Homo sapiens: one gene and its partner. The protein of the gene in region 2 purifies or fractionates together with the protein of the main gene of each other region. This does not show direct contact. Each region holds a gene or a part of one and is shown on either strand. Other genes may lie near its edges.

The links.
Region 1: the proteins of PPP1R9A (region 2) and CCDC89 purify together in Homo sapiens (co-immunoprecipitation; one large-scale study listed by IntAct). This does not show direct contact.

What each region holds. Positions count from the first base shown.
Region 1 is NC_000011.10:85,683,085-85,688,121, forward strand, and holds CCDC89 (coiled-coil domain-containing protein 89), read right to left. Parts: upstream 3,112-5,037; 5' UTR 3,047-3,111; coding exon 1,922-3,046; 3' UTR 764-1,921; downstream 1-763.
Region 2 is NC_000007.14:95,249,577-95,254,295, reverse strand, and holds part of PPP1R9A (neurabin-1), read right to left. Parts: intron 4,271-4,719; coding exon 4,041-4,270; intron 2,535-4,040; coding exon 2,438-2,534; intron 2,338-2,437; coding exon 2,166-2,337; intron 1-2,165. UniProt on the Homo sapiens protein: Binds to actin filaments (F-actin) and shows cross-linking activity. Binds along the sides of the F-actin. May be involved in neurite formation. Inhibits protein phosphatase 1-alpha activity.

The DNA.
Region 1 (5,037 bases), on a different chromosome or scaffold from region 2:
ACAGTTTTATCTGTACACATGCTTCTCTTCACCTCTTCCCAACTGCTATGATTCCCCCAAGTATTCTGGGCATTTAAATATATCTCTATGCTTTCTACTTGATGCTGTCTCAACCCCATCACCCTTTTCTCCACCTGAGGAAATTAATCATCCCTAGGAGTCCTCCCCGCCAACCCAACCCTTACCACCAGGCAGGGCTAGATGCTGCCTATGTTTTCCCTCTGTGATCACAGTATATAATAACAATAATAATAATAATAATAATTATTATTATTATTTTTGCCCTTAGACTGTATGGGGGCTCTTCCAGGGCAGTAAAAATGCTTCTTTATGCTTCTTCTTAGTGCCTACCCCAGCACCTGGCACTTGGTCGCCAAAAATTATCTTTCAGTGTGCTGTAGTCATCAAAATCCAGCTCCCCCAGTGACCAACTGGCCTTAAGCAAAATTACCAAAACCAGTCTCCTCTTCCTTAAAATAGAAATGAACACGCTTTCCTTCTTGAATAGTCCTAAGAATTAAATAAAGTAATTCATCCAAATTGCTTCAGCGCAATGATAAATAGTATGGGCTCAATAAAGGATATCCATGATTAACTTAGCTCCTATATTCTGATTCTTGGTAACCTGTAGAAGGAAGTAAATAGTCCTTTGAAGCTAGCAGTGTGGTTTCTATTTTGATGAGAAAAGTTTGTATTTAATAGCATAATCTTAATAGAAGTGTGAAAAAATGGGTGTAAAAAATTACCTGAGGCAAGGTAACACTTGCTTGGAAATGGTTTTACTAAAAAGGCACCAAGTCATATTTTTTAAGTAAATTCATTATGTAACTTGGTAGCCTTCAGCAAAATGGGTGAGAAAAATATTACATTACAATCTATTTTGAGAGGTATTCATAATAATGTTTATATATCAATACCTAATTACAGGAAGATAAGAAAATATAACTACCTTTGAGAACTTTTTTAAGAACTTTACATATATATATATCATGTTTTTATAACTATTCTTACAAAATGTAGGTATTACTACAAAAATGCTGCAAGCATACATACACACGTTCAGCTTAGATTTTTTTAAAAAAGGAAAATCTTAATTACAAAAAATATGCTAATAGAAACAAAACAATTTCTGAGTTACTCTATAGATCACGTCTGCTATGATTTGTTACCCCAAATTGTCTAATTGTCTATTAGCATATCGTGCAATATTAAATTAAGCTACTGATATTTGCATTATTGCACATCTAAATCCTCTTTTTAAAGAGAAAACCAAAAAATGGAATATTATCTAAGCTTGCAGAAAAAATAAAAGTTGTTTTGTATAACTTATTTGAATCATATTGCTCATACAGAATAAAATTGACCTTCTTTGTTAAAGAACTTGATCTCAATCATTTTCCAAGCTAGCGCAAAATAAAATAAAGTCAGACACTTTTTTTTTTCTGCAAAGCATTCATGCTATTATGCTGATACATGTTTGCTTACAATCTCAACTATGGGAGACTATAAGCCTAACTATCTACAGTGGGTAATTGTGCTAATTATTTTTCACAATGGCACATCTCACTGCACTTAGATTGACTTAAATCATAGAAGCTGCTAATTTAAAATCCTAACATAAATGAAGATATCTGAGGTTGAGAATTAATAACTTATGGGTAGGAGAAGATACTACTAGTAAATTTAAGATTTCTAAGGCACAGAAGGAAATCTGGCAAATCTTGTGTATTCTAGGTGTAGAAATGAAAATTAATAATGGCTTTACAATAATAACAACAATATCATAGTAAAGTAGCTTTTCTTTGAGTTGCCTTTTGTGCTTGAAAGTATAATAAATGGGATATCATCTTTACTCTTGCCATAATGCTAAGACGCAAATATTTGAATTCTGAATTGCAGGCCAGAGGAAGCAGAAACTTCCCTATGGAGAGAGATGGCGGAGTTTGCCATTGAGTTCTCTCTCCTTGCTTAAAAGATCCAAGCTGTGCTTTTTGAAGGCTTCAGACTGCAGCCTGAGTTCATCGTAGGCCTTCTGGATCCCATCTACTTTGCGCTGAAGCTCCCTGACTCTCAAGTTGCTGTCCACAGCCACTGCCTCTTGCTCAAACCGCTCCAGCGCATGCTTCCTGTCTTCATTTGCTATCTCCAACTTTTCCTCAAGCTGGCAGATCTCTGCCTGTTTGTTCTGAAGCACTTTGCCCCTTTCAATGGACAGCTGCAGCAACTCCTCTTTCTCTCTAGTGACGGTCTGCAGCCTGGCCTGCAGCTCCTGGCTCAGGCTGCTGTGTGTCTCCTCTGCCTTAGCTATCTGCTCCACAGCCTGCTGGTGCTGCTGCTTGAGGGTCTGCAGCTGGCTGCGCAGCTGTTCTGTCTCCTTGGTGTGGGTGCAGGCCTGCTGGCTCTGTAGCTCCAGCAGCTCCTTCTCGCGCGCCTGTGCCTGGCAGGCATCCTGAGCACACCTCTCCTTCAGCGTTTCTAGCTCCCCAGTGAGGGCCTCACACCGGACTGTGAGCTGTAATACTTTCGCCTCCTCATCCTTCAGAGCCTGGCTGAAGAGGCTGCTATTCTCCAGCCTCAGCTTCTCATTCTCCTCCCTCAGCTTGATGTTCTCACTCTTGTATTCATCCTTGAAGCGGAGCATCAACTCGTGGTTGGCTGCTAGGGTCATAAAGCGTTCCTCTAGTTTCCGACTGTACTCACCCTGGGCCTTGAGCTTCTCAGCCTCCTGCATCATCTTCTCCTCCAGCTCTGCATTGAGCAGCTCTAGGATCTGGCAGCGCTCCAGGGCCTCATCTGACCTCCGCTTCAGGATGCAGATGAGCTGGGACTGCTCTTCAATGCGGGAGCGAAGCATAGCCTTCTCGCTCCTCTCCTCCTCTGACAGTCCCCGGAGGTTTGCCAAGGCTTCCCTCAGACCGTCCAGTTCCTTAAACTCCGTCTCCTCTTCCTGGTTGTTCAGTTTTTCATTTTGCTTCTCTAAGCGTTCTTCAGGGGGCGGGGTGTCCATCCTGGGAGCCTGCTGTTTCTGGAGCATAGGCGCTCTCATCCACTAAGGGCTGACTACAGTCTTTTCCCCTCAGATTTCAAACGCTGCAGGGTGTTGCTAGGGACTCTTGGCACTCCCCAGCAGTTGGTTTTTCCAGTAAGGAGCCCTGTAATTGGTGGACAGGTCTTCAGAATGCTATGAAGTAACAACAGGGGAATCTGGGGGAGTCCAGAGCCAATCTGGTCGGGTTACTTTTGCCTTTCTAACCAATCACAGCTCTCAGTTGTCAACTGTCTCAGTGTCTGGCCTGTACAGCACAGAGATGCCAACCCCACTCAATCTCCAGCCAGCATCAGGGGAGGAAGCCTGACTCCACCTAATTTCTGGTAGTAGTAAACAAATGAAGCAGGCAATGATATATTTATCCTCCCTCTCCCCTCTTCAGTTATCGTTTGAATAAATTACTGTTTGTGGAAACATGGTTGGCTCCTCAAAAAATTTCAGTCTATGAATACAAAGTAGTAGTGGTATTCTGAGAGCCAGGACCCTAAAAGCCTGCATATCTGCACCCGTGATGTTTGGCACAGCTCCCTTTTGGTATTTAAGTATTAAAATAGAAAACACCAGTGAAATTTCTTTTGTTGTTCTTAGCATTGTCCCCACCTGGGCATAAATACTCTTTATTAGATATTTAACACCCCCTGTTTTTACCCATTAGCAAAATAAGGTTACAGAAAGAAGCTTAGTGAACCACACAGATAAACATTAAAACAGAAAAAATAAGATTCAAATGAAGCTTGCCATTATATGCCAAAGTCAACTCCTGATAGATTAGTTAAATGTAAACAGAAACTAGAAGAAAATGAAGGTAAACATCAAATCTCTGGGGCTAGGAAGGATTTTTTTTTTATCTTAAACATTATGTAAGATCAGAAAGGGAAAGCTTACTCAAAAAGTTATGTATAATTTTTTAAATTATGTGACTTCTGAGGTCTCTCCAGCCCCTTCTTCCACTGGATTTTCTTGACATTTTACTCCTCAAACCCAAATATTGAAGCCAAACCCAAATCCACTAACCAGCTCTCTCGCCCTATCTTTAGGTGTTCCTCTACTTGGAATGCCTTTCCTACTTTGTCCCTTGTCACTCTAGTAAAGCTTTTTATTCTTAGTTAAGAATCGTCTCTGAAGCCTATTCCTGGCCCCTACATGTCCAATTGGTCACTCACATCTTTTAGTGCATCCGCTATAGCTATTTGTACTTCTGGTGGAGGATGTGAAAATTTTATTGCAGTCACTGTTTATCTGCCAGCTTCCCTCTGTTAGACTGTAAGATCCTTAAGGGCAGGGACTGTGTCTATTTCATCCTTGATGATTAGACTAGTGCCTGGCACATGGGGGAGATTCAGATAAATGTGTATTAAGTGGATGTTGAAGGTAAAAATCAAATTGAGAAAAATATCCCTAATATGACAGACACTACTTTTTTTTTTTTTTTTTTTTTTTTTTTGAGACAGAGTCTCCCTCCATCGCCCAGGCTGGAGTGCAGTGGTACGATCTCGATTCACTGCAACCTCCGCCTCCCGGGCTCAAGCAATTCTCCTGCCTCAGTCTCCTGAGTAGCTGGGATTACAATTACATACAACCACACCTGGCTAATTTTTGTATTTTTAGTAGAGACGGAGTTTAACCATGTTGGTCAAGCTGGTCTTGAACTCCTGACCTTAAATGATCCACCCGCCTCAGCCTCCCAAAGTGCTGAGATTACAGGCATGAGCCATCGCACCCAGCCCAGACACTACCTTTTTTAAATAAATATTTTATACATATCAACGAAACATTAACATCTAAAAAATAAACAATTAAATTCACAAAAATGGCCAAGAACTGAACGTCTACAGTGATCCAATAAATACAAGTTAAAATTAGACATAATTTCGGCCGGGTGTGGTGGCTCACGCCTGTAATCCCAGCACTTTGGGAGGCCGAGGCAGGCGGATCACGAGGTCAGGACATTGAGACCATCCTGGCTAACACGGTGAAACTCCGTCTCT
Region 2 (4,719 bases):
GCAACTGAAATTCAAAGAGATTTATCACTGACTGTCCTCACAGCAAAACTGGAAGAGCACTTGATATGTATGCTACTAATGTCTGAGATGACTGATTCTACCTCTACTGCACAAGCATGGATTGGCTTCAGTAAGAATTAGTAGTCTCCACATCTCACTGTGAACCAACAGTGTTGCTAGGGAAACTGATAATTATGTGGCAAAATGGAGGGTGTAGAATAGAAAAAGGGTTCAGATGAAATGTAAGGTTTTGATCCAAATCAGCATGTTAATAGTATAGTGTGTTGATCTTCTGTAGTCATATAATTTAATAAACACCATTAATTATATGTTTGAAAAGATACAGATTTCTAAACTGAAAGAAATGAATAGAAATGAAAAGCTACTAGATACTGCTCATACTTTGAGTATGCCACAGCAGGAATATGTATTTATTATATATAAACTATAATTTTTTAAAAATTAAAATATTCAAAAAGGTAAAAAATTTGGTTTGATTCCTGATGTTTTTCTTTAGATATCAATCTTATAGTGTTCCAGGTATAAAAATTATAATTCCATAAGAGCTCAAATAAATTACTTTTTTGGCTTCAAAGACTAAACCATATAGTTTCAAAACAGGCCTTAAAGTGGTGAAGAAGGAAATACTACTTTTAAAATAATATGCACAGTAATATCAACCCAGAGAAGCTAAATACTCTTCCTGAAGTCACACAGCTCCTCACTTAGTCGTAATGCTAATGCTAAATCCTCCTCTTTCAGCTGCCTAAGAGGCACTATTTATAAATTACATCCTATTTAGGGAAAACCCATTAGAAGGATATAAACCCAGTGAATGGATTCAAATCTCTAGATATCATTTTAATTTTAAATGAAGATTTCTAATCCTTTCCATTTTTAATGGCTAAGAGCTTAGTTCTAAAAGTTCATGATAGGATATAAACACTTGCTTATCAGGAAAACTTCACTGGAGACAGTTTAATATGTGAGAAAGATCACGAAAAAACTAAAAAGCCCATTATAACAGGGTTTTACTGCACGTCAAAGTGTTGCCTCTGAGTTGTCGGTCCTGTCATGACAACCCTGCTGCACCACATTCTTTTATTTTCATTTTCCAGGGACTACTATGTATATATTTAAAAAGATGAAGCCACACATTCCTGTGTATTTATCTTTATAATTATTATGTGTTTTCTAATTTGCAAATATACCACAGATATTAAAACAGTCATTCATGTTCATACACGTGCAATCTAAGAATGTTGTGTGTGTAAGAACATAAGTAATTTATTTATGGTTGGTGTATGAATGAAGATAATCATTTATAATACCAAATGTTTCCAGTGTTTTGGTCTTACTTGGTCTTTGACATGAAAGACCTAAGAAGTATACACAGTACACCATGGTAAAAGCACAAAACTATATGGACTTCGTTAACTACATGAATCTCAAGTGCTGAAAGCAGCAGTCTGCCTTCTGATATTATGAAAAAGATCTTTATTCTAGTGACTTAAACATTCTAAAGCTTGGCTGGGCGCGGTGGCTCATGCCTGTAATCCTAGCACTCTAGGAAGCCAAGGCAGGTGGATCACCTGAGGTCAGGAGTTCGAGACCAGCCTGGCCAACAAGGCAAAAGCCCACCTCTACTAAAAATACAAAAATTAGCCAGACGTGGTAGCACATGCCTATAGTCACAGCTACTGGGGAGGCTGAGGCATGAGAATCGCTTGAACCTGGGAGGCGAAGGTTGTAGTGAGCTGAGATTGCACCACTGTACTCCAGCCTGGATGACAGAGTGAGACTCTCAAAAAAAAAAAAAAAAAAAAAATCTAAACCTTAGTCATTAACACATAAGTAGTGTAGTTCATCCTAGATAGGATGAACTACAATTTGTAAGGCAGTTTATTAAATCTGTCAATTGTATGATGATTTTAAAATAGTATTTGGCTTATCTTTAGTTGTGATTTGTTAATGCTACATATTAAAGTATTTATTTTTGATAAGACGAGAGCTAAAATGATTGACTCCTATTTTGATAAGCCTTTTCTTCTTTCCCATAGTAGGAAGGTATTTCCAACTTTTAAATCTCTGGGTCAGAAAAAGAAAAATAAAAGGCCAAATTACACAGTCATCAAAAATGATTTTTGTGGTTGGGTTAAACAAACCTTGACTTAGGCCATCTTGGCAAGATGTCTGCTTGCCATCCAAGTTCTCCATGGTATCCCCTTTAGAGACTTCACCAAGAGATGTTCTTCTCTCAAAGATGTTGTTATTATTGTTAACTTGAGTCCCATTTTGCTTCAGTAGCCTGAATACCTCAGCTTCCAAATCTCTAATCTAGGAAAAACAAATCCATTTATAAAACTCTAAACTAGCGCTCCCCTCCAAGTACAGCAAAACCATCTTATTATTTAGTGTCTTAGGGAACACAACTTACCCGCACTTGGAGGCCTTGCACTTCCACAAGATGAGCTTTTTCCAAATCTTCTATTTTCTTTCTTTCTGCTTCCTGTCTTTTGATGAAATCAAGCTCTCTTAAGAAGAAAATAATAGTTCTGATTATATCATACACTCAATAAATGAAAGTTCTTATCTGAAACAATAAACTGCATAGTAGGATAAGCAACTGAACAGTTATTTAAATGGACAACATTCAATCAGTTAGAGGAAAAAGTATAGTAATGAAAGAAACTAAAACATCTTTAATGGGTCACAAGGCAAAGAAAAATGATTCGATTCTGCTTACTATAATTTTCTTTCGTAGCTCCTGATTCTAGAACACCCATACATATTTAGATAGGAAAGACTGCACTAATGACCCACATTGGGTAATTTAGTGGAGATAATTACTTGTCAGGTAGAAATAATTCCATTTTTCCAATGTCATAAGCATAGTATAGTAAACTGATGTAACTAGATAAGAGTTCGAAAAAGATAATTGTAAGATTTCTATGAATAACAGTGAAGAGGGGGCTGGGTGGGTCAGAAACATCGAGAGGGGCACTCACTTATAGACCTAAGGATAATATGGGGAGAAGAGAAACAGTTCCATTTTGAAAACCTGGAATAGAATATGCAAATTTAGCAAAATTTACTATAAAATTATTTCATGAAAAAGAGTTTGGCAAATAGTTAAAACAGTGATGTATTGAATTTATAGTCACAGAGAATAATTACTCCCCTTTTAACAAGAAACTTTTGATAGCAAAACTCTTTTAAATATTAAAAACATTCTTCCACATAATAGGAAATAAAAGAAATATGGTTAATCTTACATATATGCTTAGCTTCTGAGGCTTGGCATGGAAGACCAGAAAAGGTACTGGTACTACTTATTTGTTCTAACTAGCCAGAAGTAACTGATGAAAAAAATCTAGTAAAAATCTCCGTGGTCAGTCTCCGTGACATTACACCGAGATCCAAGAGATGGAAGCAAAGGAGCAGTAGCTCAGAAACAGCTGTTGAAAATCAAAAGCAGAATGTGGTAATGGTCTCTCTCCCTGCAGTGAAAGGAGGCCCTCCTGATTCTCTCAACAGCTGAGAAATGCAGAGTGGCAGGGCAGGGGGCCTTGCTAGTCGATATGTGCACTGTCTGTAGTGGGAAATTCTGTAGTTACTGATCTAAGAATAGAGAGGAGCAGCCTGATTCAGGCCCCAGCTGTGGCTTGCGTGCTCCACATCCAATAGTCAGTCATTCTACATGACTTTCCGCTGGGCTTCTTGTTTCTAAATCATAGAGGTGTTTCAAAAAGAATAAAGAAATTCAGATGTTTTAACAGTTATAAACAACGATTAATTATCAAAAATAGCAAAGAGGCCCTGGCAGCCAAAAACTATAAAATATACAAAACATAATCTCATGAAAAAGTGATAGAAGTGACTTCCAAAACTTAATGTGTATTTATGCTGTAACTATGCTCCTGGATAGGAAAGATATCTCTAAGGTCATCTTTTCTGTTCCACTAGATATTACAAAATTATTGGACATAAACCTTCTTTAGACAAACATAACTATTCTTTAGTTATTAGAAGCGGCTTACTTTTGTTGAAAATCCTTGATCAACTTCTTTGCCTTGTTGTATTTCTTTTCCAAGGCCTGATACTGGCTTTGAGTCTCTTTGAGATGCTCATTCACTGTGTGGCATAATGTTTGGGCCTCAATCCAGTAGCTTTCCAACTTCAACATTCTTTCCTTATTCTCTTCTATGTTTTGTTGGAGTTGGGTTTTTTCTAGTTCCCACCTCACTTTCTCATTTTCTGCTGCCTGCAGCTGGAGAAAGCAAACGTCAAGGCAAAGATAATTTGGCCACTTTTGTGGCAAAAATCTCTCATTTTTATAGCATGTTGTAGATCAAGTTCTATTATCATAAACAATCACTGAATCCACTTGAGATGAGAAAAGCAGGTATTATTTTTATAATTCCACAGATGATAAAATGGAAGCCTTGAAAAGTGAAATGATTTGTCCAAGGTCACACATTTGATAAGTGATAAAACATGGATTGGATTCCACCTCACACGATATTTCCATCACACCAGGTGATCTGAAATTCTGTGAGCAGTAAAAGATGTTTCAGAGTTTGATATATCCAACGAATGTCAACATGTTTTGAGAGTTTTTAAAAAATATATAATTATATATAAAAAATTAACTAAAAAGGGAGTGGAGAGGGCCAGGGAGGAGAGAGGAGTTAGAAGCACAGTATGGCTTAATGGTTA